Regions from separate parts of the Homo sapiens genome. Here region 2 is linked to region 1. The links come from fine-mapping of genetic effects on gene expression. A gene starts in region 1. The other region holds a variant in brackets. All regions are shown on one strand. Distances are between the middles of the regions. Region 1 holds the start of HSPB1 (heat shock protein family B (small) member 1). Region 2 overlaps SRRM3 (serine/arginine repetitive matrix 3).

What was found. PIP is the estimated chance that this variant, and not a neighbour inherited with it, causes the effect.
Region 2: its variant is fine-mapped to the expression of HSPB1 in whole blood (TOPMed, PIP above 0.99).

Annotation. Positions count from the first base shown.
Region 1 is chr7:76,301,266-76,304,167 of GRCh38, forward strand. It overlaps HSPB1 (heat shock protein family B (small) member 1), which reads left to right and starts at 1,408. Exons shown (of 3, transcript NM_001540.5): 1 at 1,408-1,811; 2 at 2,537-2,600; 3 at 2,719-2,902. The coding sequence starts at 1,448.
Region 2 is chr7:76,270,816-76,273,717 of GRCh38, forward strand. The region is part of intron 11 of SRRM3 (serine/arginine repetitive matrix 3); the gene reads left to right. Among named protein-coding and RNA genes, the nearest start is that of HSPB1, 30 kb to the right of the region's middle. RefSeq lists enhancers at 2,202-2,311, 2,322-2,411. The variant A/T (reference allele first, on the strand shown) is at 1,593.

The DNA of each region.
Region 1 (2,902 bases):
CACCCAGCCAGTAATATAATTTTATGGGACCACCTTCATATTTGCTGTCCCTTGCTGACTTACACATCTTTATGCAATGCATGACTGTTACCATCATTATCATCTCTATTTTCCAGATGGGGAAACTGAGGCACAAAGAATCTAACTTGCACAAGTTCATCTGCTTAGTGATGGAACAAAGATGTGAATTCAGGCAGTCTGGCTTCAAAGTCCACACGCCTAACAACCACACCAGATTACTAGATTGCTTTTTTCTTTTTTCTTTTTTTTTTTTTGAGATGGAGTCTCACTCTGTCACCCAGGCTGGAGTACAGTGGTGAGATCTCGGCTCACTGCAACCTCTGCCTTCTGGGTTCAAGCAATTCTCCTGCCTCAGCCTCCCCAGCAGCTGCGATTACAGGCGCCCGCCACCACACCCAGCTAATTTTTGTATTTTTAGTAGAGATGGGGTTTCACCATGTTGGCCAGGCTGGTCTCAAACTCCTGACCTCTGGTGATCCTCCCACCTCGGTCTCCCAAAGTGCTGGGATTACAGGCGTGAGCCACCACGCCCAGCCCAGACTGCTTTATTTTTGTATTTGTATTTATTCATTTACTTATTTTGAGACAGGGTTTTGCTCTGTAGCCCAGGCTGAAGTGCAGTGGTGCAATCCAGCTCACCACAGCCTCTACTCACCGGGGTTCAAAGGATCCTCCTGCTTCAGCCTCTGGAGTAGCTGGGGCCACAGGCATGCACCACCATGCCCAGCTAATTTTTAAATATTTTTTGGTAGAAGTAGGGTCTCACTATGTTGCCCAGACTGGTCTCAAACTCCTAGCCTCAAGGGACCCTTCTGCCTTGGCCTCCCAAAGTGCTGAGATTACAGGCATGAGCCATGCACCCAGCCCCTTTTTAAAATTTTTTTGAGAGACAAGACTTTGATCTGTTGCCTAGGCTGGAGTGCAGTGGTGAGATCATAGCTCACTGCAGCCTCAACTCCTGGGCTCAAGCACCAGACTCCTTTTATCACATTCTATCTCACACGCGTGTGGTTCCAATCCTGCCTCTGCCACTTCTCAGTTGTATGCCCCAACCCAACCTGTCTGGCTCTGTCCTCCTTAACAGAAGGACGGCCCTGGCCACGGGCCACAGCCAGCAACGCTTAAGCACCAGGGCCGGCGAGTGCCCTGCCGTGGCACGGCTCCAGCGTCGCGCTCTCGAATTCATTTGCTTTCCTTAACGAGAGAAGGTTCCAGATGAGGGCTGAACCCTCTTCGCCCCGCCCACGGCCCCTGAACGCTGGGGGAGGAGTGCATGGGGAGGGGCGGCCCTCAAACGGGTCATTGCCATTAATAGAGACCTCAAACACCGCCTGCTAAAAATACCCGACTGGAGGAGCATAAAAGCGCAGCCGAGCCCAGCGCCCCGCACTTTTCTGAGCAGACGTCCAGAGCAGAGTCAGCCAGCATGACCGAGCGCCGCGTCCCCTTCTCGCTCCTGCGGGGCCCCAGCTGGGACCCCTTCCGCGACTGGTACCCGCATAGCCGCCTCTTCGACCAGGCCTTCGGGCTGCCCCGGCTGCCGGAGGAGTGGTCGCAGTGGTTAGGCGGCAGCAGCTGGCCAGGCTACGTGCGCCCCCTGCCCCCCGCCGCCATCGAGAGCCCCGCAGTGGCCGCGCCCGCCTACAGCCGCGCGCTCAGCCGGCAACTCAGCAGCGGGGTCTCGGAGATCCGGCACACTGCGGACCGCTGGCGCGTGTCCCTGGATGTCAACCACTTCGCCCCGGACGAGCTGACGGTCAAGACCAAGGATGGCGTGGTGGAGATCACCGGTGAGCCCCCCTGCTCCTGCAGGGGAGAGGAGGAGGCTAGCAGGGCGGGCAGGGCCGGGGGCGTGCGGTTGAAACGGGGGTCCCGGGGGCCTGGGGAGTTAAACGTTGGCCCAGCACCGGGAAAAACAGGACTCCTGATTCCCTTGCTCAGGAATTGGGAGTGCGGGTCGCTTCTAAGGGCGCTTTCTGCTCTGTAATCCCAGCGCTTTGGGAGGCCGAGACGGGAGGATCGCTTGAGGCCAGGAGTTCAAGACTAGCCTGGGCAACATAGCGAGACGCGCCCCCCCGCCCCGACCCCGCGCCATTACAAAAAAAAAGCAAACAAAAATTTTTTTAAAGATCATCGATGAAGAGAGAAAATGCGCTTTTCTACAGAGTCCCCTTCCCACCCACAGCCCCATCCCCAGATAAGCGGGGAGTTCCCTGGCGCGGTGCCAGTTTCTAGCCGCTGAGTGGGCGTGTGCGCGGCTCCAAGTGCGCCTGCGTACTGCTCACTCCCCAGCTCCGCGCCCTGCTCCGTTCCTCCCAAAACTCTGAATCGAAGAACTTTCCGGAAGTTTCTGAGAGCCCAGACCGGCGGGCACGCCCCCATCCCCAACCCCCTCTGTTAATCCCTACCAGCCTGCAGTCCTGGCTGCTTCCAAGCAGGAGGTGGGGCCTCTGGCCTAGCGGGGCCGAAAGGCAGTCCCCTCCCCCGCAGTCTGATTTCCCTCTTCCCCCCAAAGGCAAGCACGAGGAGCGGCAGGACGAGCATGGCTACATCTCCCGGTGCTTCACGCGGAAATACACGTGAGTCCTGGCGCCAGGTCGGGGTGGGTGGGTGGCGTGGGGGTGGGGTCAGGGAAGAGGGCACAGGGACCCACCCGGTGTGTAATGTAACGCTTGCCTTTCCTCTCTGCACGTCCAGGCTGCCCCCCGGTGTGGACCCCACCCAAGTTTCCTCCTCCCTGTCCCCTGAGGGCACACTGACCGTGGAGGCCCCCATGCCCAAGCTAGCCACGCAGTCCAACGAGATCACCATCCCAGTCACCTTCGAGTCGCGGGCCCAGCTTGGGGGCCCAGAAGCTGCAAAATCCGATGAGACTGCCGCC
Region 2 (2,902 bases), 30 kb before region 1:
AAAAAAAAAAAAAATAGCCAGGCGTGGTGGGCACCTGTAAAACCAGCTACTTGGGAGGCTGAGGCAGGAGGATCGCTTGAACCCAGGAGGCAGAGGTTGCAGTGAGCTGAGATTGTGCCATTGCACTCCAGCCTGGATGACAAGAGCGAGACTCTGTCTCAAAAAAAAAAAATCCATCTTGATCTCGAGACTGAGGCCAGTGATGTGGTTACTCCCAACAAACCCCTTTGTTGGCCCATCCCAGGTGATGGTTGAACCCCACAGGACTTTCTGGGTTCTGATGCTTACAGGAGAAACTGCAGCTCCGAGAGGTCAAGTGACTGGCTCAAGGTCACACAGCTATTTAGAGGTAGATCCAAAAGTAGACCCCAGGCAGGGCGCAGTGGCTCACACCTGTAATCCCAGCACTTTGGGAGGCTGAGGCAGGAGGATCACTTGAGGCCTGCAGTTCCAGACTGACTGGTCAACAGAACAAGACTGTATCTCTACAAAAAATATATATATATTTTTAATCAGCCAGGCATGGTGGCATGTGCCTATAGTCTCATCTACTGAGGGAGATGAGGGAGGAGAATCACTTGAGCTCAGGAGTCCAAGGCTGCAGTAAGCCATGATTGCACCACTGTACTCCAGCCTGGGCAACACTGCAAGACCCTGTCACTACAAAAATTTAAAAGAAAAAGCTGGGCATGGTGGAATACACCTGTAATCCCAGCTACTCAGGAGGCTGAGACAGGAGGATTGCTTGAACCAGAAGTTTGAGGCTGCAGTGAGCCATGATTGCGCCACTGCACTCCAGCTTGGGCAACAGAGCAAGACCCTGTCTCAAAACAAACAACAACAACAACAAAAAATAGACTCCAGCCCTCTGACTCTGACCTCTAGACTCCAGCTAAGCTGTGGAGAGGGTGGAAAATGGGAAGCACAGTCCACGAGCCCTGAGCAGAAGGAGGATTTGGGAGGTGGTTGCTGGTTGACTCAGCTCCTGCTTTCCCCCATCAGACCCATCCAGAAATCAGCTTCCTGCTCTCTCATGTCCCTAGGCCAAGGTCTGCCTACACTGAGAGACCTGGGTGCAGGTGGCCCCCACATTACAGAAACTCATATGATTGTTTCTTCTGTGACTCAGGGAACCCTAAACCCTCACAGTTCATACATGTGGGGAAATAAATATCGAGGCACAGAGAGGGAAGAGAGTCACTCAAGGTCACACAATGTAGGATGAAAGAGGAAGATACTGATCAGGAGACCTCCTGGGAGAAGCCCTCCTGTCCAGTCTTACCTGGTGCCTTCACTGGCCTCCCTCCAGCCCCCACCAGCACAACCTGGTGCTAGGCTCACCCTCCCAAGGCCCAAAAAGAGTATACAGAGTTTGCCGTCTTTTCTATTTTATTATTGCATTCCTGTCCCAGGGGCCACCTGCTCACCTTAGAAGTCTCTAGCGTTAGAAGTTTCAGGGGATGGGGCAGGCACAGTGACTTATGCCGGTAATGCCAGTACTTTGGAAGGGCGAGGCACGAAGATCGCTTGAGACCAGGAGTTTGAAATCAGCCTGGGCAACATAGCAAGACCCCTATCTCTACAAAAAAAAA[A/T]TTTTTTTTAATTAGCCAGATGTGATGGTGCATGCCTACAATCCCAGCCACTTGGAAGGCTGAGGTGGGAGGATCACTTGAGCCCAGGAGTTGGAGGCTACAGTGAGCTATCATCCTGTCTGTAGTCCCAGCTACTCGGGAGGCTGAGTCAGGAGAATCACTTGAACCCAGGAGGCAGAGGTTGCAGTAAGTTGAGATCGCACCACTGCACTCCAGCCTGGGTGACAGAGCGAGACTCCATCTCAAAAAAAAACCCCAAAAAACAAAAAACCCTACAGTGTCCGGGGCTGTCTGGAAGGTGACACCCTTAGGTGAGGGTGGCAGAGAAGGCTCAGGATCATGGCCTTGGGGCTCTCTCTGGCTTCTCCCTGTGGTCCAAATTTTATCATGTAATGGGCAGCCTCGGGTGACCCCCAAGAAGAGGTGCCAAGGCACCCCCTGACCTGCCTTATACAGGAACAGAAAAAGGCAAAAGGGATGAATTTTGCTAAAAGGATGCCAAAGCCAGAGGGAAAGGAGTGGGACTGACCTGAGGCAGGGCCACTCCTCCAGATCGGCTCTGTGGTTGCCTTCCCTTTTAAATGCGCGTTTTCCCTTCACCCATCTGTCCACTCCGATTGGCCTTGTTTAAACAGTGCTTGTCTCCTCTTTCTGTCTGGGGGCACCTTTCTCTCTTCCTGCCTCTCTGTTTCTGTTTGCTTCTGTCATTGTTTCTGTCTTTCTGTTTCTCTTTCTCCTTCTCTTCCCATTTCTATCTCTGCCTGACTTTGTCTGTTCGTCTGTCTCTCTGTCTGCCTCCTGTCTCTCTCTCTTCCTTTCCATCCCTCTCCCCCGGCATGGGCCTCTCTCCCATGCTGCCAGCCCCTCTGTAGCCCACCCTGTGGTTCTCTTCCATCAGCTGCTTCCTGCATGCTCTATGGAGGTTTTCTGTTGTTTGAACAATAAAGAAAGCTTGGCTAGTGGAACCCATTGTTTAAAAAGGAGAAAAAAAAAAGAGCAAACAGAAATGGCCGTGCAAGAGCCCCCTCCCATCCCTGGGATGAGACAAAAGCCACATTGGCCACCCATCTACTGGCTCAGAGGGGGAGCACAGTTTAGGGTCACTGTCTTTCCCCCATTCTGCATTCCCAATGCGGAGACCTTCTTTTCTTTTTTATTATTGCATTCCTGTCCCTGAGCACTGAGAAGGTAGGTATCCCAGCTCCGCTGTGCGCTCTCGCTCCCATCTCCAGATAAGCCCTGCCACTTTGCTTGGTTTGAATGTGGTTTTCTTTCTCTCTCTCAATCTTGCCCTGGTTGGTTTCATATTC